Regions from separate parts of the Homo sapiens genome. Here all the other regions are linked to region 3. The links come from fine-mapping of genetic effects on gene expression. A gene starts in region 3. Each other region holds a variant in brackets. All regions are shown on one strand. Distances are between the middles of the regions. Region 1 overlaps KIAA1671. Region 2 holds the start of PIWIL3 (piwi like RNA-mediated gene silencing 3). Region 3 holds the start of SGSM1 (small G protein signaling modulator 1).

Region 1 (8,179 bases), 240 kb after region 3:
TCTTCCTGTGAGAAGGAAGACTGATGTGATCAGTGACACGTTCCCAGGTAAAATCAGAGATGGCTACAGATCCAGCGTTCTTGACATTGACGCCCTGATGGCAGAGTACCAGGAGCTGTCGCTGAAAGTCCCTGGGGAGGCTCAGGAGAGGAGGAGTCCCACCGTGGAGCCCAGTACGTTGCCTCGGGAGAGGCCTGTTCAGCTGGGCGGGGTGGAGCAGAGAAGGAGGAGCCTGAAGGAGATGCCCGATACCGGGGGTCTCTGGAAACCGGCCAGTTCTGCCGAAATAAATCACAGTTTCACTCCTGGCTTAGGCAAGCAGCTGGCAGAGACCTTGGAGACAGCCATGGGCACCAAATCTAGCCCTCCCTTCTGGGCTCTGCCACCCTCGGCTCCTTCTGAAAGGTATCCAGGGGGCTCTCCTATACCTGCGGATCCCAGGAAAAAAACGGGGTTTGCTGAGGATGACAGAAAGGCCTTTGCCAGTAAACATCATGTTGCAAAGTGTCAGAATTACCTGGCTGAGTCAAAGCCCTCTGGTCGGGAGGATCCAGGCAGTGGGGTCAGGGTGTCACCCAAATCGCCCCCCACTGACCAGAAGAAAGGGACCCCAAGGAAATCCACCGGGCGGGGAGAGGAGGACAGTGTGGCCCAGTGGGGTGACCACCCACGTGACTGTGGACGGGTGCCGCTGGATATCAAGAGGGCCTACTCAGAGAAGGGGCCCCCTGCCAACATCCGAGAGGGCCTGTCCATCATGCATGAAGCCAGAGAGAGGAGGCGAGAGCAGCCCAAAGGGAGGCCCAGCCTTACTGGAGAGAATTTGGAGGCCAAAATGGGACCCTGTTGGTGGGAGTCAGGGACTGGAGACAGTCACAAGGTAAGTACCGAGACACTTTTTAATTTTGTCAAACATGGTTTAAACATCTAGTCTAGGGGGCCGAAACTCAGATTTTGTGTGGCCCACTTTGGGTACATAAATGAGTGGAGTCAGGCTGGGTATGAGGCTCCAGGGAGGGGTATGGATTGTGGCAAATGGAGAGCTCATGCCCTATCTGAACTGGACAACTGCTGCTTGGTCCCACCTGGTTCTTTGTTTGTTTATTTGTTTGTTTGAAACAAAGAGTCTTGCTTAGTTGCCCAGGCTGGAGTGCAGTGGCATGATCATGGCTCACTGCAGCCATAATCTCCTGGGCTCAAGCCATCCTCCCGCCTCAGCCTCCCAAATAGCTGGGATGACAGGCATGCGCCACCATGCTTGGCTAATTTTTTATTTTTTGTAGAGACAGGGTTTTGCCATGTTGCCCAGGCTGGTCTCAAACTCCTGGGCTCAAGTGATCCTCCTGCCTCGGCCTCCCAAAGTGCTGGGATGACAGGCGTGTGCCACCATGCCTGGCCCAGCTGGTTCTTCACAGGCAGGAATGCTGGCCTTGAGATGGCAAACCTCATTTATCAAGAGAATCTGAAAATCTAGATTTTTATGTGTAATCCTCCCATTAGGAAATGAGGAGGACTTATTTTTAAAAATGCTGTTCAGCCCAAACAAGACTTGTCTGCTAGCCCCATGCAGCGCGCCGGCCACCTGTTTTACACTTCTGTCCTACAATGACGATAATGATAGATATCAATGGTAGCTTTATTGTGCTCCTGCTGTATAATAGCCTGTTGTATCCTGTTCATTATTATGTCCCCAGAATCCAGCATCATGCTTGACATACTGTGAATGTTCAAGAAGTATTTGTTGAATGAGTGAACAAGTGATCTTACGTGAGCCTCAAAAGAGGGATCACCATGGTTTTGGGTTCCAGCAGTCCCTTGTTTTTTTTTTTTTTTTTTTTTGAGACGGAGTCTCACACTGTCACCTGGGCTGGAATACAATGGTGTGATCTTGGCTCACTGCAACCTTCGCCTCCTGGGTTTAAGCGATTCTCCTGCCTCAGCCTCCCAAGTAGCTGGGATTACAGGAGCCCGCCATCATACCCGGCTAATTTTTTGTATTTTTTTTTTTTAGTAGAGACGGGGTTTCACTATTTTGGCCAGGCCGGTCTTGAACTCCTGACCTCGTGATCCGCCCACCTTGACCTCCCAAAGTGCTGGGATTACAGGCGCGAGCCACTGCGCCCGGCCTGTAAGCACTTTTTAAGGGGGTGATCCCAGGAAGAACCAGTAGGGGAGAGAAGAAGTGAGGCAGGTGCTACAGGGGCCATGGTTGGCCACAGAGGCACATCTCACTGGGGACCCCGGGAGGCAGCATGGAACACCTCTGAAGTTGTCATGTCCAGGGGTCAAGGGACCTGGAGTATGTATTTTCCAATCCCTCTGTCCTTGCCTGAGGCTGTTTGTGGGGTCATGAACATTCAGACTTTTCCATCCTGGCTGGCACCATGCACAGCAGAAGAAAGAAAATCTGGCTTCCTTTGTTCAGTGAAGAACAGAGAGAAAGAGAAGAATGGATGGCAGGGTGGGGGGTGGGGAGGAAAGGAGGAAGGGATCACTTTAATTACAAGCACACCCTTTTGGGGGTACATAAGCAGAATAGCTGTGAAGAAACCCTCACCCAAATAAGCCACTTTGTTTTTAACACACACACACAAATTCAAATCTACCCAAATATCTATCAGTGAGGCTCTAGGGTGTTGGCAGAGGGCCCCTTCTCTTGATCTTTGGCATATACCTGAGTGTTGGGCAGAGTGCTGACACTACCTACTGCTGTGTGATCATCTTCCTGTACAGATGGGGGGAAAAAAACAGAGGCTCAGAGAGGTGAAATAACTTGTCCCAGGTCACACAGCAGTAAGTAACAAAACTGGTATTTGAACCCAAATCTGGCCTTAATTACCCAACTGGGCCATATTCTAGGAGACCATTCTGGTGAAGAACCACGAAGGTGGGGAAGAAATCTGAGGCATAAGGACCACCCTTTGAAGCTTCTGATCTCTGTGGGGAGATGGGCCATTGTGATCCAAGACTGGGGAGTGATGGGGTGCAGAGGGAGGCACTGGAGAGGTGGCCCAAGGTGTCCTGGAGGAGTCGGTGGTCTCAGCCCAAGCTTGAGGGTTGGCCATGCTTTTGGGTGGGCTGATGAGGGGAGGTGAGGGCATTCTCAGCAGGGCACAGCATGGACAAAGGTTTGGAGGTGGGAAGAGCGTAGAATGTTGTGGGGGACATGTGGAAATGGACTTAGCACCGCCCTGTGTGATGTGGCATCAGCAAATCAGGCCACAGATTCTTCCTTTGCCACTTGCAGCTGAGTGATACAGGGCAAAACCTTTCACCTCCCTGCACCCGAGTTTTCTTGTCTGTAAAAGGGACTAGGTGGCCAGTCTGGAAGTGGATGCTGCAGAAAGGAAACTCTAGGATACAGTCAGTAATGATCATGCGGTGAGGATTTGCCTTCAGTTAAGAGTGGGTAAGTGATGGAGTCAGGCTTTGAACCCATGTCTGTTCCCAAGAGGCCAAGCTCTCCAACCACCATGTGCAGGATCACGCAGACTTGGCATCTGAATCTCCACGCTGCTACTTGCCTGCTGTGTGTAAAGCAGCCTCTTGGCCTCTCCTGGCCTCAGTTGCCATGCCAGAGTTAACAGGGATTCCTGCCCCAAAGCACTGTTATTAGACTGAATTGAAATAAAGCACCGAACTTGGGCCATCCCCGTGTGCTTCCTGAGAAGGGTTTCATCTGTCCCTACCTGCAGGCTGATGTTGTGGTAACAGTGGAAGAAGGAAGAGGCCAAGGAAATGCGACACTTATGTTTGCCAGCACCTTGCTCAGGGCCCGC[T/C]GGTGGTGGGGGAGTCGGGATGTTGTGGAGGGGGGATCCTGGGCTCAGCTCTGTCCCGCAGCCCAGCCTTGGATGCCTGCCTGGAGCACGCAGGCCCCAGCAGTGCTGGTTGTCAGGGGATCTGTTTTCTCACCACGGGATTGGGAAGCCTTGGACCAGCTTCCCGTTTCTCTCTTGTCTCCTGCCAAAAGATCTTTGGTTCTTTGATCTTAAAAAAAAAAATAAAAACACACCAATACAGAAGGAAAAAATGTTGGTTGTTAAAATTTTGAACCTTACAGGGGTATAGAAAATAAAAGGTGAGTGTTCCCCCAGAGGCAGCCACCATTACATTGTTTATGTCCTTTCGGACTTTCCTATATTGACAGTCACTTATCAATCATATATATATGCATAATTGTCATGCTTTTCATATTGCAACAGTAGCGAATGCTTGCGTAAAATGTGAAATACTGGCTGGGCACGGTGGCTCATGCCTGTAATCCCAGCACTTTGGGAGGCCGAGGCGGGTGGATCACGAGGTCAGGAGATTGAGACCATCCTGGCTAACACGGTGAAACCCTGTCTCTACTAAAACTACAAAAAAATTAGCCGGGCACAGTGGCGGGCGCCTGTAGTCCCAGCTACTCCGGAGGCTGAGGCAGGAGAATGGCGTGAACCCGGGAGGCGGAGCTTTCAGTGAGCCAAGATCACGCCACTGCACTCCAGCCTGGGCGACAGAGAGAGACTCCGTCTCAAAGAAAAAAAAAAATTTTGAAATACTATAGAAAAATGGTGTAGAGAGAAAATCTCCTTTAAATATTGAGCGTGGTGCATAAACTGGGGAACACCCCTCTAGGCCCATTAGTGGTTTTTAACTATGGGCAATTTTGCCCCTGGGGCACATTTGGCAGTGTCTGGAGACATATTTTGTTGTTGTCACACCCTGGGAAGAGGTTGCTATTAGCGTCTCATGGGTAGAAGCCAAGCATGCTGCCCAACATCCTACAAGGCACAAGACAGCCCCCACTGCAAAGAATGCTCCAGCCCCAAGTGTTTGCAGTTTGTAGGTTGAGGAACCCTGGTCTAGACACAGACATAGATAAAGGTAAATGCATAGACTTAGATATAGGTAAATACATAAGCTTTCTATGGAAAACTACAACAGTCTATAGAAAATCTTGTGGCTTACTTTTGTTTTTTGAGATGGAGTTTTGCTCTTGTGGCCCAGGCTGGAGTGCAGTGGCAGGATCTTGGCTCACTGCAACCCCCGCCTCCCGGGTTCAAGTGATTCTCCTGCCTCAGCCTCCTGAGTAGCTGGGACTACAGGTGCACACCACCATTCCTGGCTAATTTTTTGTATTTTTAGTAGAGATGGGGTTTCACCATGTTAACCAGGCTGGTTTTGAACTCCTGGCCTCAAGCAGTCTACCTGTCTTGGCCTCCCAAACTGCTAGAATTACAGGCGTGAGCCACTGCACCCGGCCTCCCCTTCCTCTTTTTAATGGTTGCGAAGTATTGTATTATGTGACTGAGCCCAATCTATTTTAACCTAGACTCTCATTGATGGGTATTTGGGTGGATTTGAATTTTTGTGTGTGTTAGAAACAGGGTTGTGCCGGGTGCAGTGGCTCACATCTGTAATCCCAACACTTTGGGAGGCCGAGGCTGGCAGATCACTTGAGGTCAGGAGTTTGAGACCAGCCTGGCCAACATGGTGAAACTCCATCTCTACTAAAAATACAAAAATTAGCCGGGCTTGGTGGCGGGTGCCTGTAGACCCAGCTACTTAGGAGGCTGAGGCAGGAGAATTGCTTGAACCCAGGAAGCGGAGATTGTAGTGAGCGGAGATCGTGCCACTGCACTCCAGCTTGGGCAACAGAGCGAGACTCTGTCTCAAGAGAAAAAAAAAGAAGAAGAAAAAGAAACAAGGTTGGTTCCTTGGGTGAGGGTTTCTTGATTTACAGCCCAAAAGGGTGTGATGGTCATTAAAGTGATTCCTTCCTCTCTCCATCCCTTCCTCTCTCCATCCCTTCCTCTCTTTTTCTCTGTTCTTCACTTAACAGACATTTATAGAAACTGTTTCCCAGACCCAACAGTATTTCATTTATTTAAATTATTTATTTTAGTTTTAAGAGAGAGACGATTTCACATGGCTCCACTCCAAAAATACTTAAAAAACATTCCCCTGATACCTGCCATGCTTACATTTCTTCCACCCGGTAATCACTTTTATTCCTTTTTTTTAAATTCCTTTTTTTCTTTTGAGGCTTCTTTATGAAAATACAAGCACATAGAAATACATATTTTTATTTTTGCTTCACTTTTCCATAATAAAGAGCACTTTCTCTAAGTGGTTGAAACTTTGGTTGCCTATGGGAGTAACACAGGGAATCCTAAAAGATATCAATGACTGGGCCTCTCTCCAGGCCAGTTAGGTCAGAATCTCTGGGGTAGGACCTGCCTTTGTTAGTTATGAAGGCTCCCCAGGGGAATCTTGGGTTGAGGATCTCTGTTGAACCCACAGATTTTCCACCTTTCTGTTTTTCATATAATGTGTCTTGAGAGTTTTTTTTTTTTTTTTTGAGCCAGCGTCTCACTCTGTCACTCAGGCTGGAGTGTAGTAGTGAGATCATGGCTCACTGCGGCCTCAACCTCCTGGGCTCGAGCAGTCCTCCCACCTCAGCCTCCCAAGCAGCTGGGACTACAAGCACATGCCACCACACCTGGCTAATTTTTTTTCTTTTCTTTTTTTTTTTTTTTTTGAGACAGAGTCTTGCTCTGTTGCCCAGGCTGGAGTGCAGTGGCATGATCTCGGCTCACTGCAACCTCCACCTCCTGGATTCAAGCAATTCGCCTGCCTCAGCCTCCCGAGTTGCAAGGATTACAGGCATGTGCCACCTTGCCCAGCTGATTTTTATATTTTTAGTAGAAATGGGGTTTCACCGTGTTGCCCAGGCTGGTCTTGAACTCCTGACCTCAAGTGATCAACCTGCCTTGGCCTCCCAAAGTGCTAGGATTACAGGCGTGAGCCGCCACCACCACCATGCCTGGCCTCTTTTCCTTTTTTTTTTTTTTTTTTTGAGATGGATGGAGTCTCACTCTATTGCCCAGGCTGAAGTGCAGTGGTGTGATGTCGGCTCACTGCAATCTCCACCTCCTGGGTTCAAGCAATTCTCCTGCCTCAGCCTTCCAAGTAGCTGGGATTACAGGCGCTCGCCACCATGCCTGGCTAATTTTCGTATTTGTAGTAGAGACGGGGTTTCACCATGTTGGCGAGGCTGGTCTCAAACTCCTGACCTCAGGTGATCCACCTGCGTCGGCCTCCCGAAGTGGTGGGATTACAGGCATGAGCTACTGCGCCTGGCCTTCCCTTTCTTAATGGTACCCTTTAAAGCACAAAAGTTTTTAATTTTGAAGAAGTCTATTTTATTTATTGTTCTTTTGTTGTTTATGCCTTTGGTATCATATTTAAGAAATCACTGCCTAAGCCTAGCTCTTGAAGATTTACACCTCTATTTTCTTCTAAGAGTTTTCTAGCTTTAGCTCTTACATTTAGGTCTTTGATCTATTTCAAGTTGATTTTGGTATATAGTATGTCAGATTTGCAGCATGTTTTGCAGGTAGAGTCTCAGCTTTGCTGATGCAGTGGAGAAAAGTGGGAGAGAATGGGGAGGAGAATGGAGGGCAACCCGAAGGTCTTGGCCTCCCCAGCTGGGGGATGGATGGGCAAGGTGTGGGAGGAGCAACTGTGGAGAGATGGAATCAAGACGCATGTTTTGAGCACGTGGATCTGAGATGAGTGTGAGCTTCCAAGAGATGTTGAGTGAGCAGTGGGATCTCCGAGTCTGGAGTTCCAACACTGAGAAACAGAATTGGCAGGCATCTGGGTGTAGATGGGATTTATTTAAAGCCATGGGGGGCGTGAAGAGAGATCCCAGAGGGAATGATGTAGCAAAAGGAGAAATGGCTCTGCGGCTGGCCTGGGACATGTGGGGACACTGATCAAAAAGAGCCAGGGGGTTAGGAGGAAAACCAGAGGGTCTCTGAAGGCATCCAGAAAAGAGGCTGTGAGGGAAGGGATTAGAAATCCAGTCTTCCTCTTCCTGGTGCTGTGTGTTCTTAAGCAGCTCCCTCCCATCTCTGGGCCTTTGTTTCCTTGTCCACGCAGGGAGAGTGTGAAGCATATAAAATATGCATCCTGGAGTCCTGGCCTGTGAATGTTTCCCCTATATATAACTAAGTGGAAAAAAACAGCAGGATTCCAAGTAGATGTACTGGAGGTGCTGTGCTGTTCATGCACCGTTTCTCTGTGTCTATGCATGTGTGTTTGGGTGCATAAAGAGATGATTAAAATAAGGTCACCAAGAATGACCACTGGCAGTAATGAGGCCAGCCAGCATTTATGGAGGGCTCCCCAG
Region 2 (8,179 bases), 30 kb before region 3:
AAGTAGTTGTATATTTCACAATGTAAGTAAATCTTATATTGAAGGAATAAAGTCTGCATAATAGGAGCTCATTAAATAGCAACTTCTATGAGCAACAGGACAATATTATGTCCCTGGCATTTGGACTTAGACAAAAACCTTTGTGGAATCATAGCCTGTCCAGGTATGTGCTGTGTGACCCTGAGCAGGTGATATCATCTCTCTGAGACCCTGTTTCCTAGTATGTTGGGTATTGAAAACTTATGTCACAGGGGCCTGTGGGGGTTACAGGAGCCAATCTGTGCAAAGAGCTCAGCAGGTGCTGAGTGCTCAGCAAGTTACAGCTACTGGAGTTAAAATCACTACCACAGTGGAGAAGAGCCCTGGCAAAGGCTGCAGTCTCCATTCTACCCACTGGGAAATCCGAACGGCTGACCAGCTCCCCTGTCTTTCCCAAACTAGGATCCCAGGAATTAGAAATGGTGGTGCTTAGGTGGGTGCACAGCAGCATCTAGTGGACTAGAAGGAGAACTGAAGAAGTGTCACAATGACATCGGGAAGAGAAAGTTTTAAGGCTGGGGAAAAGGTTGGCAGAGAAGTCAGGAAGGAGGCCTGCATGTGCCGGGTGTCCCCTGTGGGGAGATCAGATGAGGTACCTTAACAGTTATCTGGACCTCAAGCCCCCATGTGCTAGCTGAGGGCGTCCTTCTCCCTCCCCAGGCCTCCCTGGGTGCTGGGTCTCTGGGTCCTATGGGCTCAGGGGCCCATCTTTTTCAAGTTCTGCTCCACGTGTCTGTGTCCAGCTGAGGGCACTGACCCCACTGCCCCAGTCCCCAGGGCTTAGATGCCAGGACAGTAGAAAGCTGTGTGCCAGGGCATAACCAAGGTGTCCTCCACTGCTCTGGGCCACACATTGGCAGCTGGGCCCTGTGTCCCTCTGACACCGGATCCTAGGGTTTCTGGCTCTGCCATCTCTGCTGTGATGCTCCATTCCAACCATGTGGCTCAGCAGGGAGGGCATTACACACTGTCCCTTCCCCCTTTTCCATACTCCTGCCTTCCTGCATGCCCTGCACAGGAACCCTCTTCCCTTCTCCTTTTGCCAAAAGAATTCAGAAGATACCAACTTTCTCCTCTTTTCCTGTCTGCAGTGGAGGTCCCGGCAGGACCCCCTCCTGAGCTGTGAGGGTTAAATGGGAGAAGGTGTATTGAGCTTGAAGCACTGGCAGGTCCCACAACGAATGCTCAAAAAATGGAAGCCTCTGCCACCATCTGCATCATCCCCATCAACCACAGGAGCAAAGAGCCCGCCTTTTCTGAGAAGAGCATTTACATATTGATAGAAATTCCGCGGTTTTATTTATCATCACGTCAGTTTTAAGGATGTAAGTAGGTACACATATACATATGTATCTAAAATATATTAAGTTTTTAAAAGTAGGTTATTAAAGGATATGTACAAGACACTCTAGATTTTTTTTTTTTTTTTTTTTTTTTGAGATGGGAGTCTCACTCACTCTGTTGCCCAGGCTGGAGTACAGTGGTGCGATCTTGGCTCACTGCAACCTCCGCCTCCCAGGTTCAAGCAATCCTCCTGCCTCAGCCTCCCAAGTAGCTGGGACTACAGGCACCCGCCACTGCGCCCAGTTAATTTTGGTATTTTTCGTAGAGACGGGGTTTCACCATCTTGGCCAGGCTGGTCTTGAACTCCTGACCTCATGGTCCAGCCGCCTCAGCCTCCCAAAGTGCTGGGATTACAGGCATGAGCCACTGTGGCTGACCAAGATGCTCTAGATTTTTAAAATAAATATACATACTCCACATGCTCAAATATAAGCTGAATCTGTAACCCAGCAGCTTAGCAGCCTAACCTCAAACCGCATTTTAAAACTTTTTTTCCTTTCCCCTTTCCTCTCTTCTGCTAATCTGAAGATGTAACTTAGACAAAGTATAGACGTGTTTCCTCTCCTCTTGAAATCCAGCCTTGGAATGTGCTGTGAACCTCCACCCCCTTTCTTTTCCTGTTCTATGCCCCCATGCCTTATGCACATTTATTTACCTAGTTGTTTGGTAAGCACACACCATACTCACTTATCTGGTCACATATTTCCTTAGAAGCTTCAGTAGTCAGATCCTGATACGAACCATGCACCTCCTCCAGCCATGATGACGCCGGCCACTTCCACAGATGGAAAAATAATTCAGGACAAGCCACTGGAGGGGGTCACACCACCTGACACCTCCCAGTCCCCCTGCCTCTTTTGCCTTCCAAATCCTCCCTTTAAAAACCGCTTTGGCCGGGCGCGGTGGCTCACGCCTGTAATCCCAGCACTTTGGCAGGCTGAGGCGGGTAGATCATGAGGTCAGGAGATGGAGACCATCCTGGCTAACACAGTGAAACCCTATCTCTACTAAAAATACAAAAAATTAGCCGGGCGTGGTGGCGGGCACCTGTAGTCCCAGCTACTCGGGAGGCTGAGGCAGCAAAATGGCGTGAACCCGGGAGGCGGAGCTTGCAGTGAGCCGAGATCACGCCACTGCACTCCAGCCCGGGTGAAAGAGTGAGACTCTGTCTCAAAAAATAAACAAATAAATAAATATCTTAAAAAATAAAATAAAATAAATAAAAACCCCTGCGTTCATCCGAGCGCAGTGGCTCACGTCTGTAATCGCAGCACTTTGGGAGGTCAAGGCCGGAGGATCACGAGGTCAGGAGATGGAGACCATCCTGACTAACGCGGGGAAACCCCGTCTCTACTAAAAATACAAAAAATCAGCTGGGCATGGTGGCATGTGCCTGTAGTCCCAGCAACTCGGGAGGCTGAGGCAGGAGAATCGCTTGAACTCAGAAGGCGGAGGTTGCAGTGAGCTGAGATTGCGCCACTGCACTCCAGCCAGATTGGGCGACAGAGCAAGACACCGTCGCAAAAAACAAACAAAAAAAACCCCTGCGTTCTTTCCTCACGTGGAAGAGTGGAATTGCTCTCTGCTCTTGCCCTTGCTAGCATAGATTATAAAATTCTTTCTTTTTAAATCACATGTCATTATCATTTTGACTTCTTTCTACAAGCAGTGAGCAGCTGGGCCCTTTTGCTGGTTACAACATGAGTGACTGGGGCAAATACATCAATCAAGGTTTATCAAGCCAGATTTAGGTTGTTTCTGGGAAAAACACGAGCCAAACATGCACCTGTGGCTATTTTTCTGAAAAGGTTTTTCAGGAGATTTCCTATTTTTTTTAAGAAACTTTATTTTATTTTATTTTATTTATATCTCTATGTATTTATTGAGATGGAGTCTCGTTCTGTCGTCCAGGCTAGAGTGCAGTGATGTGATCTCTGCTCACTGCAGCCTTCGCCTCCCGGGTTCAGGCGATTCTCCTGACTCAGCCTCCTGAGTAGCTGGGATTACAGGTGCATGCCACCACACCAGGCTAATTTTTGTATTTTCAGTAGAGACGGGGTTTCATGATATTGGCCAGGCTGATCTCAAACTTCTGACCTCAAGTGATCCACCCACCTTGGGATTACAGGCGTGAGCCACCATGCCCAGTCGGGGATCAGAGTTTTTAAAAATGATTTGGTGGGTATGGGCTCAGGAAGTAGGGAGTGCTTATTGGTCGGGTTGGAGATGGAATCATGGGGGTGGAAGTGAGTTCTTGCTGATTTCTCTTCCTGGATGAGATCGCAGGACTGGTTGAGCCAGATTATCAGTCTGGGTGGTGTCATCTGCTGCATCGGAATTCAGGGTATGCAAAATATCTCAAGCACTGATCTTAAGTTTTGCAAC[G/A]GAGATTTTATTCCCAGAAGCAACTTGGGGAGGTTCAGACTCTTGCGGCCAGAAGCTGCATGGCCCCTAAGCCGTAATCTCTCATCTTGTAGCTAATTTGTTAGTCCTACAAAGGCAGGACAGTTCCCCACGCAAGAAGCGTCTTTTTTTCAGGAAAGGACTATTATCAGTTTTGTTTCAGAATTTAAACTATAAACAATTCTTCCCCAAGACTAGTTTGGCCTATGCCCAGGAATGAACAAAGACAGCTTAGGCGTTAGAAGCAAGGTGTGGTCGGTTAGGTCTGATCTGTTTCACTGTCATAATTTTCTCAGTTATGAGTTTTGCAAAGGCCCTTTCAATGGGGTGACTATAGTAAGTTAATTTTCCTCCTCTTTCTTCTGGTTTACCCAAGGGCATGTGGAGTCATAGAACTGTCCAGCAGGCACTGAAAGTAAAAAGTCTGTGATAAACCACCTAAATTTCTAGCTAGGCTAGTGGGAAAGGGGTCTCCTGCACATCAAGGAGTAAGGGGATCATCCTTGGTTTGTTTTGTTTTTATCTCCCCAGTTGCAAAGCTGTCCTGCAGCCTCAGCAATGGCAGAGGGACCTAAAGCCCTGAGAAATCACTTGGCTCACTGGGCAGAGGAAAAGGAAAGAGACTTCTGCATCTGAAAAGTATAGGGGAAATCTCTTTTTGTTTCTTCCTGTACTTCACTTGAAAGGCTGACCTAGACGCGTGTAACTGCACAGCAGCACGGGTGCTGCAACACTGATAGGAGCATGAAAACGGAACCCTGCAGAATCCTGCAGAGGAGAAAGCTAAAGGGGATCACTTAAATGGATGTATGAATTAACATAAGTCCTAGGATCACCCTGAACTATGCATGCACAGAAGCAGAGCAAGGGTTTTGAGAAACGAACTATAATATAAACCACCACTCAACTCCCAGATTTACCCAAGTGGATACACCAGCATAGCAAAGGCTTGAAAACTGCACTGAGACTGGAACAACTGTCAAAGAAAACAGGACAGGGCTGGGCACGGTGGCTCACACCTGTAATCCCAGCACTTTGGGAGGCCAAGGTGGGCAGATCACGAGGTCAGGAGTTCAAGACCAGCCTGGCCAACATAGTGAAACCCCGTCTCTACTAAAAATACAAAAAATTAGCCAGGCGTGGTGGCGGGCGCCTGTAATCCCAGCTACTTGGGAGGCTGAGGCAAGTGAATCGCTTGAACCCAGGAGGTGGAGGTTGCAGTGAGCTGAGATTGAGCCATTGCACTCCAGCCCAGGTGACAGTGTGAGACTCCGTCTCAAAAAAAAAAAAAAAAAAAAAAGAAAAGAAAACAAGACAGAATATGTGGTTTAACCTAAACTATGTTGAATGCTCAATACGACAACAATAACAACAACAAAATGAACATTTCTCTGGCAGATTTTAGTAAGAACCAGAATCTCACAATATAATAAGCAAACTGTCCAGGATACTCTCCAAAATTATGCGGTAGAACATAAGACAAATCTGACCAACTCTCAAGGGAAAAGATAATCAAAAATCCGGCCTTGAAAGACCCACATGAAGGGACAATTTATGCTTTAATCAGAAGTTTGGTTAAAATTTAATTCTAGTTAAAGTTATAATTAGATTTAAAATTTAGAGGGAAAACATCTATTATAACCATTCTCAAAAAAATAAAATAAAGGTAGTACTCTTTTTTTTTTTAAGACAGAGTCTTGCTCTGTCACCCAGGCTGGAGTGCAGTGGTGTGATCTCAGCTCACTGCAAGCTCCACCTCCCGGGTTCAAGCAATTCTCCTGTCTCAGCCTCCTGAGTAGCTGGAGCTACAGGCGCCCGCCACCACGCCCAGCTAATTTTTTGTGTTTTTAGTAGAGACGGGTTTTCACCGTGTTAGCCAGGATGGTCTCGATCTCCTTACATTATGATCCGCCCGCCTCGGCCTCCCAAAGTGCTGGGATTACAGGGGTGAGCCACCGCGCCCGGCCTAAGTACTCTTAAAATTAATGGAAAGCTACAAGTCTTCATCAGAAGAGAAGAAATTATAAAAAAGAAGCAAATGGAAATCTTAAATGCATATGCAACATCTAAAATGAAAAATGTACTGATTCAACTCAATTATAGACTGGAGAAAAAAATCAGTGAAATTGAAGATATGTAAATAGAAATGATACAATATGACGAACAAAGAAATAAAGATTGAGGAGTAATTCTCTGAACCTCAGAGATGTGTGGGACACTATCAAAATTTCTTTTTTTTTTTTTTTGAGACGGAGTCTCGCTCTGTCACCCAATCTGGAATGCAGTGGCGCCATCTTGGCTCACTGGAAACTCCGCCTCCCAGGTTCACCCCATTCTCCTGCCTCAGCCTACCGAGTAGCTGGGACTGCAGGCGCCCGCCACCACGCCCGGCTAATTTTTTTTGTATTTTTAGTAGAGACGGGGTTTCACCATGTTAGCCAGAATGGTCTCGATCTCCTGACATCATGATCCGCCCGCCTCGGCCTCCCAAAGTGCTGGGATTACAGGCGTGACCCACCGCGCCTGGCCTACTATCAAAATTTCTAACATTCTGCCCATTGGAGTGCCTGAAAGAAGAACTTGATGCAGAATAAATTGAGGGGAAATTGACTGAAAACCTCCCAAACTTGTGAAACATAGATCCAAGAAGCTCAGAAAACCCTCACCCTGCTAGATTATAACAACCTAAACTAAAGAAAAAAGTCTAGAAAACAGAGGGGGGAAATGACACGTTATACACGAGGAAATTACAATATGAATGCTTGTGATTTCTCAGAAAGATGCCAGAAGAAAGCAGAACCACATTTTTAAATGTTGAAAAAGAGCATTGGCCGGGTACGGTGGCTCATGCCTGTAATCTCAGCACTTTGCGAGGCTGAGGCAGGTGGATCATGAGGTCAGGAGTTTGAGACCAGCCTGACCAACATGGTGAAACCCTGTCTCTACTAAAAATACAAAAATTAGCTGGGCATGGTGATGGGTGCCTGTAATCCCAGCTACTCAGGAAACTGAGGCAGGAGAATCACTTGAACCCGGGAGGCAGAAGTTGCAGTGAGCTGAGATCGCGCCACTGCACTCCAGCCTGGGCAACAGAGCAAGACTCTGTCTCAAAAAAAAAAAAAAGAAAGAAAGAAAAAAGAAAAAGAGAACTATCAACCCAAGATACCATATGCAGCAAAAATATCCTTAAAGATTGAAAGAGGAAAAGGAAAAAGAAAAAGAATGAATGACATGGAGATGGGAATAAAACTAAGAGACTTCATCACTGGACAACTTACTCTAACATTATGTGAAAGAAGTACAAACGGACTGAAATGAAATTAGATAGGCAGGAAGCTTGGAACTACAGGAATAAAGTAAGAGCAAGAGAAATGGTACATATATGTGTAAATGTGATACCCTATTTTTCTCCTCTTAATTTTTTTTTTTTTTTTTTTTGAGACAGAGTCTCACTCTTGTCACCCAGACTGGAGTGCAGTAGTGTGATCTGGGCTCACTGCAACCTCTGCCTCCTGGGTTCAAGCAATTCTCCTGCCTCAGCCTCCTGAGTAGCTGGGATTACAGGTGCCTGCCACCACACCTAGCTAATCTTTGTAGCTTTTTTTTTTTTTTTTGGTAGAGACAGGGTTTCACTATGTTGGCCAGGCTAGTCTCGAACTCCTGACCTCAAGTGATCCGCCCGCCTCAGCCTCCCAAAGTGTTGAGATTACAGACATGAGCCTCCATGCCCGGCCTTAAATTCTTGACTATAAGTAAGACTTGTGACAACAAAAATTATAGTACCATCTCAGAGGGCAGCGTTCAAATATGCAGATGTGGCACATAGGACAACTGTAACAAAGAGTGAAGGGTGTCAGCATCCATGTGGCCATTAGGTGACTACATTTTACTTGAATTGGTAAATTATTAACTCTAATTAGAAGGTGAAAGGTTTGGTAAATATACTGTTATTCCCATAACAACTAAATACAATTACAAACTCACCCCCCAAAATTATGGAACCTCAATAGCTCTATATCCAGGAGATATGAATAAAGCAGCTAAAATATTCACATACAGGTTTTTGTGTGAAAATAAGTTTGATTTCTCTTGCTTAAGTACCTTGAAGTGAAATTGCTGGGTCATACAGTAAATACATCTCTCCCAACCTGCCTCCACAGGATTGGGTTAGCACCTGCACTTCTGTTCTTAGAGGCTCTTCCCTCTGGTATTCTTGGGGGAAAAACCAGATGGATACACAGATGGCTCACTTCAAAGTTGCCATATTTTGGCCAGGCGTGGTGGCTCACGCCTGTAATCCCAGCACTTTGGGAGGCCGAGGCGGGTGGATGACGAGGTCAGGAGATCGAGACCACGGTGAAACCCCGTCTCTGCTAAAAATACAAAAAAAATT
Region 3 (8,179 bases):
ATAGTGCAGTTTTAGTCTGAGTCCGAAGGCCCGAGGCCCAGGAAGAGCAGAGGTTTCAATTTGAGTCAGAAGGTGGGAAAAGATGTCGCAGCTCAAACAGTCAGGCAGGAGGAGTTTCCTCTTGTTCTGCCTTTTTTTGTTCCATTCAGATCTTCAATTGATTGAATGAGGCTTACCTACATCAGAGACAGCAATCTGCTTTACTCAGTCGATGGATTCAAACATTAATCTTATCTACAAACACCCTCACAGTCACGCCCAGAATAACCTTTGAGCAAATGTTTGAGCACCCCTGGTCCAAGCAAGTTGACAGATAAAATTCACCATCGCAGCAACAAGGAGTATCTGCTGCATAGGGCATGCAACACAACATTAATCAAGATTTCTCTGTATAGTAAGAGGCTCAAGAGTGCCTCGGCCTGAATCTAGCCTCTCTTACTTTCCAGCTGCATGTCTTGGTTAAGCTGTTTTTTTTTTCTCTCTTTTTTTTTTTTTGAGACGGAGTCTAGTTCTTTTGCCCAGACTGGAGTGCAGTGGTGCAAGCTTGGCTCACTGCAACCTCTGCCTCCCGGGTTCACACAATTCTCCTGCCTCAGCCTCTCGAGTAGCTGGGATTACAGGCACACACCACCAGGCCCGGCTAATTTTTTTTTGTATTTTTAGTAGAGACAGGGTTTCACTATGTTGGCCAGACTGGTCTCGAACTCCTGACCTCATGATCCGCCTGCCTCGGCCTCCCAAAGTGCTGGGATTACAGGTGTGAACCACCACGCCTGTGTTGGCCAGGCTGGTCTCGAACTCCTGACCTCAGGCGATCCACCCGCCTCGGCCTCCCAAAGTGCTGGGATTACAGGTGTGAGCCACCGCGTCCGGCCTAGCCTGGACTTTCTTAGCATTTTTCATTTACGCTGATCACAGAGCTGACCTTTCCCAGCTGAGGGCGCTGAAGAAACATTGCTGGAGAAAGAGGCTTCTCTTAACTGGTTCCAGCTGCTGCACCACTGGTCAGCGCTAAGGGTGTGAGGTGTCATAGGCCAGGTAATGGGATTCTCAGACACTGGGGGAGGCTTTGGGACCCAGGTAAATTTTCCTATTCTGGCCACAGGGAGAGTGCAACTCTTCCCAAGCTGATCTTAGGTGATGGTGCCCCTAGTGGTGAGTGTTCCAACTGCAGCAGGGTGCAATCCCTGGTCCCATGGAATTCAGGGTTCCAATGTCACCTGCTCAGTGGGGCCTCCCTCAACCACTCTGTTTCATAATAAAATCCCCATCTGTCTGGGCCCTCCCTGTCTCCCCTGCCTACTTTGTTTTCCTCCAGAACTTTCCAACATACTCTATTATTTGCTTATTTTATTGTCTGCTTCCTAAGCTCCACGAGGGCAGAGCTTTTTGCCTGTCTCGTTCACTTAGAAGTATCTAGCACAGTCACCTGGCACACAGTAGGTGTTCATAAATATCTGTTGACCTGAGTTGCATGCAGGTCAACCATGCCCTCCTGCCAGTTGCAACTGCACCAAACACCATGGAGTCCTTTATCTTGGAGGAAAAGCTCCAGGTTTTCAAGGACCAGCACAGGTCAACTTCCCAGACTTTGTGCTTGGCAGGAAAAGGAAAAATGTGGGTTTTGAAAAATGATTCCCTAGAGTGAGGCTTAGGCACCCTACCACCTTCCTAAAGTACCCCAGTTAACTTAGGGGTGAAGCCAAGGAGAGGAACTAATGGATCAATCACTTTGGTCCTCAGGTCAGAATCCTGGCGGCCACACACTTGTTAAACAAACAGGGATGAAACCCCCTCCAGGCTTGGCTTTGTCAATGACATAAGGCTCATAGGGTTAGCGTGGGGTGGAAGGAGGGTCAATAAGATCATGTGAGCAAAACCCAAAGCCCTTAGCGCAGTGCCTGCCACATAGTAGGTGCGCAATATATGATTATTTTTGCTGCCAAGCAACCATTTCCCATTCTCCTGGGGGACTTGCTGGAGATTGTGGAGCAGGGGTTTGTGATTGAGACACCTCTCCCCAAGCCAATGGGCAGGCTTGTGTCCCAGGTCAGGACAATCAGGCACTCCCTCCATAGGATGAAAACCTTAAACGAATGGCATTCTCTTTACCAGAGCAGCAGTGCCCTAACCACACTGTCCTTGCCAGGCAAATATTCCCAAGATTCCCCTTTCTGGCCTTCCAGAGCCACCTTGATTTCATCCCATTTCCCAGTTCTCCAGGCTCCCATGGGCTCTGGGATCACATATTATCTTCCCAGTTTATTTCCTTTTGCCTGAGGAAGCCAAAGTCAGCTTCTGTGGCTTACGGCCAGAGACCCCTGACACTGACCAATGGAAAAAAGGGGGCTCTGGATCCACTGCTGCACGGAGAGGCACTCTAAGCTGCCCTCTAGTCCTTCTGAAGGAAGGCCTGAATACTGGGGGACCCTAAAAGGCATTGCAAATCCTTAACATCACCATCAAAGTCATACAGGGTTTTGGCCCTGCACCTCTCTGGCCAACATCCCACCACCGTCCCCATTGTTCACACCACTCCAGCCCCACAGGCATCTGTGCTATTTGTCACTGTTTGACTGGACACACTCCCTCCTCAGGGACTTTGCATTTGCTGTTCCCTTGACTCAACTGCTCTTCCTCCAGAAATCCCCATGGCCTACTCCTTTTCCTCTTTGCTTAAATGTCACCTGCTCAGTGGGGCCTCCCTCAACCACCCTACTTCAGAATACGATCCCCAGGGGTCTGGGCCCTCCCTGTCCCCCTTGCCTACTTAATTTTTCTCCAGAACTTTCCAGCATGGTCTGTCCTTTTCTTACATATTTTGTTGTCCGCCTCCTAAACTCCATGAGGGCAGAGTTCATTGTCTGTCTTGCTCACTTAGAAATCTCTAGCACAGTCACTTGGCACAGAGTAGGTGCTCAATAAATATTGACCTGAGTTGCATTCTGGGTGGATACAGTTAGGGACTTGGGGTGACCAGGGGCTCTTGATGGAACAAGGCTTTTCCCACAGAGCCCACTGCTTGCTCAGCCCCAGAGATCCTGGCTGACAAGTGCCTCCTTTTGGGGCCAGACTCCTGGGAAAACCCCACTCCTCCAGTGACCTGCATGTCGGGGAGGGAGCCACTTAAGTCCCGGCCTCTCCTGAATGGATAACCAGTGTATCTTGGAAGACTCTTTTTTTTTTTTTTTTTTTTGAGATGGAGTTTCACTTTTGTTGCCCAGGCTGGAGTGTGGTGGCACAATCTTGGCTCACTGACACCTCTGCCTCCAGGGTTCAAGCAATTCTCATGCCTCAGCCTCCTGAGTAGCTGGGATTACAGGAGCACGCCACCATGCCTGGCTAATTTTTGTATTTGTATTTTTTTTATTTTTTGAGACGGAGTCTCACTCTGTCGCTCAGGCTGGAGTGCAATGGCGCCATGTTGGATCACTGTAACCTCTGCTTCCCGGGTTCAAGAGATTCTCCTGCCTTAGCCTCCCCAGTAGCTGGGATTACAGGCAGCTCGCCATCATGTCCGGCTAATTTTTGTATTTTCGTAGAGACGGGGTTTCACTATGTTGGCCAGGCTGGTCTCGAACTCCTGACCTCAAGTGATCTGCCCGCCTCGGCCTCCCAAAGTGTTGGGATTACAGGCGTGAGCCACCGCGACCGGCTGGAAGACCCTCAATAATAATAATTAATAATAATAACAGTAACAGTGGCAAGCATTTATGCTCGCTGGCCTTTCCCCCTGGGTCTGTATTAAGGGCTTCACATCCAATATCTCACTTAAGGCTCAGATCGTTCTGAGACCCATTATGCCCATTTTATACCACATTATACCCATTTTAAAGATGAGAAAACTGAGGCTTGGAGAATATCGGTAGTAGCCCCACCATTTCCTGTGACTTCCTGGAGCCTGGCCCACAGAGGAGGGTTCAGGACGGACGCTTTCCTTCCCCGCCCTAGGGAAGAGGGAGGGACGCGGGCGCTGGCGTGGAGGTTGGGGGAGCCTGAGAGGCTCGGGCGCTGGGTGCGCGGGAGGGAGCGTGCGTGCTTGGCGCGAAGGCTCCTGGCGCAGGCGACCCGGCTGCCCCGCCGAGCGGTGGCTTTCCGGAGGGGTGGGGCGGCCGCCTCGGGTCCTGACGTCGGGCGCCCTCCGGCCGTCACTCAGCGCTCGGCCCCGCCCCGCCGCGGCTGCAGCAGCAGCGCCGCGGCCGGAGGAGCTACCGCCGCCACCGCCGCCACCGCCTCCTGGGACTCGGAACGCAGCGCTCGGAGCCATGGCCTCGGCCCCCGCGGGTAAGAGGCCGCTGGACACGAGGGCGGCGGGAGGGCAGCGCCCGGCCCCCGCACCCTCTCTCGGCTGACCCGCGGCTCTCGTTTCTTGTCCCACAGAGGCGGAGACCCGACAGAGGCTGCTACGCACCGTCAAGAAGGAGGTGGGTGCCGGGGTGGGGGCACTGGGCAGGACTCCCCCGGCAGCAGCGGCCAAACGGGAAAAGAGTCTTCGTGGAAGGGTGGCCTCTGGCGGCGGGGGGGCGGCCAGAACAGGTGTGGGGCTCACCTGGGTGGGCATTGACCTCCCGCAGGGCAGGAGGCGCAGCGAGGGAGTTTGGGGGTGGGCGTAGGTGTGGGGAGGCTTTGGCCCATTTGAGGCTTTTTGCGGGGGCGGATGTAGCGTGAGGGCCCTCCAGGTGTGGGGCACACCTGGATGTATCCCGATAGGACCTCCTCTTGTGGAGGAGCAGGTGGGCGCGGCTCAGGAAGGGGACCTTCCAAGAGAGAGAAGCTGCTAGGGGGACGCCCCCCACAGGGTGTGCTGGAGGAGGGGCTCTGAATGGGGCTGCCGAAGGTGGGGCACGCTTCAGGAAAAGGCAGAAGGAAAATAAAACCTCCCTTCCCAGCCCCCGAATTCTCAGTCCTTGGAGCCACCTCCAAGAGCCAGGGGACTCCCTCCCTGAGAGTCACGGGTCAGTGAGCTGCTCCCCTGGCAGTAGGGGTCCCTTCACTCCCCCCGCCCCACTCCCACCCCACATTCAGAGGGTGAGAATCAGAGAGGTTCTGCCATTCCTCTGCCCCTCCACTCTCCTTGGGGTCAGCGCGTGGAGAGGGGGGCAGTCTAGTCTTTAGGGCTCATGGCCAATGACCTCCCAGAACCCCATAGACAGAATTTATAGTCCTTGGGGTAGCATCTCGATGCCTGGACTGCGTGCTCTGGTGTGTATACCTGCATGGGTGAGGACCTGTGGCTGTGAGTGTGTGCGTATGAGAATGTCTGTGCATCTGTCTGGAGATACCTAAGTGTATCTCTTTGCACTGTGTGTACACGTATCTATGTGTGTCTTTGTATCTGTTTTTGTGAGGGTGGGTCTGTGTGTGTATATTGTGTGGTGCATGAGTCTGTGAATGAGTGATGCTGTGAGTGTGTGTGTGTATCTTGAGTAGGTGTGTGGCATGTGATGCATGAGTCTGCATGAATAACTAGGGCTGTGACTCCGTCTGTGTGCGTGTGTCTTGTGTGTTGCCCTCCCCATTCTTCAGTCTCAGACCCCATTGCTGCTGTGTCTTCATCACTTTTGAACCTTATCAGCGCTTAGCCCAAGGCCTTGCATGGCAGCAGACATCGTGGGCTGGCCTGGTTTCTGGGCCTGGCTTTCAGTGTGTGTGTGTGTACATGCGTGCATGTGTGTGTATGTGTTGGGGGTGTTGGCTGAGGTGGCAGCATCAAGCATCACTGATGACCCCTCCTTCCCTGCACAGTGGCAGACAGCCACCAAGGGCAGCCTCGAGGCTTGGACCTGTTGCTGCTCCTCCGTCCTCCGGGAGCATGAGTATGTGCCTGCGTGTGTGTGTGTGTGTGTGTGTGTCTCTGTGTGTGGCATGTCCTATTTTGTTTAAAGAATGAGCTCCAGGGCTGCTTGCACATTCTAGCATTTTCGAATGAGACATGCAAAATACATTGGATCCCTCAGAAAGGCCCAGAAGTTTTCAGCTCAGCCCTTGTATAGACTCCTGTGGGTATTCCAAGGGAGATCCATCTAGAACCTCTTATCTTTTTTTTTTCTTGGTGTTTTTTTTTTTTTTTTGAGACGGAGTCTCGCTCTGTTGCCCAGGATAGAGTACAGTGGCACAGTCTCCACTCACTAAAAACTCCACCTCCTGGGTTCACGCCATTCTCCTGCCTCAGCCTCCCAAGTAGCTGAGACTACAGGAGCCACCATGTCCGGCTAATTTTTTATTTTTTTATTTTTAGTAGAGACGGGGTTTCACCACGTTAGCCAGGATGGTCTCGATCTCCTGACCTCGTGATCGCCTGCCTCGGCCTCCCAAAGTGCTGGAATTACAGGCGTGAGCCACTGCTCCCAGCCTAGAACCTCTTTTCAATAGAACTCACAGACCAACAACATCCTTGTCACTTTCAGTGGAGGGGCATGTACCTTACAAAGCACCTGCTGTCTTTTTGTTCGTGGTTTAACCAGACCTACGTGTAATATGTGTCCCTGAGATGTTTTTGCCTGGGGTAGCTTTGTTTTTAAGGCAATGGTTGGTTGAATGGGGAGGGGGCTGCAGGCAGAAGAGAACACCAGTAAGACATCTGGGGAAGGCTCTGGCTGAGGCCCAGGTCCCAGCTCAGCTACCATCTTCCTCAGTTTCCTGCGCAGGTTCCTTCTTCTCTCTAGGAGTCAGTTTCTCCATCTGCAGAAGGATGCATTAGTATCAGTGTCCTCTAAGGTCTGACCCGTGTCAGTCTAGTTTGGGTCTTGGGCTCAAAGAGGGGGAATAACTTGCCCAAGAGCACACAGCCAAGATGGGACAGAGTTGGGACTTACCCCCCAGGTCTTTTTGATGTCAGAGCCACACTCTGACCCTCCCATCCCACAAACATGCTCATCCAAATCTACACGGTGCCACACCTTGGACAGAATGTGTGGGCAGTACAGTTTCTACTGTACAGATGAGAACACTGTGGCCCAGAGACAATAAGTGACATTTCAAGGGCACAGAACCAGTGTGAGGGAACAGGTTCCGTTCTTCTGTCTTTTGAGTTCCTATTCAACATAGGTACCCTAAGAACATGGCAACAACTCGGTGCCCCCCAAAGCACGTCTCCCCTGTCCTTTCCTTCCTTTGCTTACCTCTTTGGGGAGCATCTCTCTCAGTGTCAGAGAGCCAGTCTCTAGTGGAACAGAAGGGAAAGCTCTTTGCCTAGAAATCTGAGAGTCAAATCAGATCTCCCTCCTCCCCACTCTCTGGGTTCAAAGGAGCCACATCTCTGCCTGTCACAGCCTCACCCAGAGACTGCATTGTATGTACACATATCTACATGTGTCTGTGTGTATATCTGTCTTCTGTGTGTACATCTGTTTCCCCAGCCTTCTTTCTAGAAGGAGTGCCTTAACAATCGACATCTCTAGATAGGCTGGGCAGCTCTGCAAGGTTTGCCAGAGCCACTGCAGCCACGAAGGGGCCAACAGAGGCTGGGAGCTGGAAACTGTCCAGTGCTGGCCTGGGGAGCCAGCTGGACACAGCACCCATGAGGCAGGTCAAGAAGAACTTTGGGCTCAACTAGAGCTGGATTCCAACCCCAGATGTGTTTATTTACTGAGGGCTGTGTGTCAGACCCTGGGCTAGGTTCTGTGGATATAGCAGGGACAGGCCCCTTGTAGATGGGCCCTGTCCCTGTCCTCCTGGGGCTGACCTTGCAGCGGAGGAAACACACTCCCAACAGTTACCTTATCAAAATTACAAGGATAATTACAGGCTGTGAACAGAGATGTGAAGGAGAGGCACCCGGGGCTGCAAGAACCCAAAACAGGGACAACTGACCATGTGCAGGGGCCCAGGATATGACGTTTCAGAAGACAGGTGCAAGATGAGTAGGACTTTAAGGTGAAGATAAGAGGGTTGAGAGACACTAAGAAAAACCATTCCTGGCAGAAGGTTTTGTACATGCAGAAGCTTTGTGGCTGGAGGGAACACTGTGAATTTGAAGGAACCGAAGTGACCGGAGCAGAGACAAAGGAGAAAGGTGCAGATGCGGAGAAGGCGGAACATGTGGTCTTATCCCAAAAGCAAGGGAAAGGAATGGGGAGGACATCGAGAACAGGGAAAGAAGGTGATGGAGCTGAAATTGCTGGCCTGTTCACTGCACAATCTTAGACAAGATCTGTCTTTACCTTTATCAGTGTGTGGG

What was found.
Region 1: its variant is fine-mapped to the expression of SGSM1 in thyroid (GTEx, PIP 0.97).
Region 2: its variant is fine-mapped to the expression of SGSM1 in sun-exposed skin (GTEx, PIP above 0.99). The same link has a PIP of 0.9 or more in unexposed skin.

What each region holds. Positions count from the first base shown.
Region 1 is chr22:25,040,646-25,048,824 of GRCh38, forward strand. KIAA1671 reads left to right here. Exons shown (of 13, transcript NM_001145206.2): 5 at 1-880. Among named protein-coding and RNA genes, the nearest start is that of KIAA1671-AS1, 68 kb to the right of the region's middle. The variant T/C (reference allele first, on the strand shown) is at 3,780.
Region 2 is chr22:24,772,252-24,780,430 of GRCh38, forward strand. PIWIL3 (piwi like RNA-mediated gene silencing 3) reads right to left here and starts at 2,469. Exons shown (of 21, transcript NM_001255975.1): 1 at 2,071-2,469. The variant G/A (reference allele first, on the strand shown) is at 3,769.
Region 3 is chr22:24,802,061-24,810,239 of GRCh38, forward strand. It overlaps SGSM1 (small G protein signaling modulator 1), which reads left to right and starts at 4,151. Exons shown (of 25, transcript NM_001098497.3): 1 at 4,151-4,284; 2 at 4,381-4,424. The coding sequence starts at 4,266. RefSeq lists a silencer at 3,989-4,198.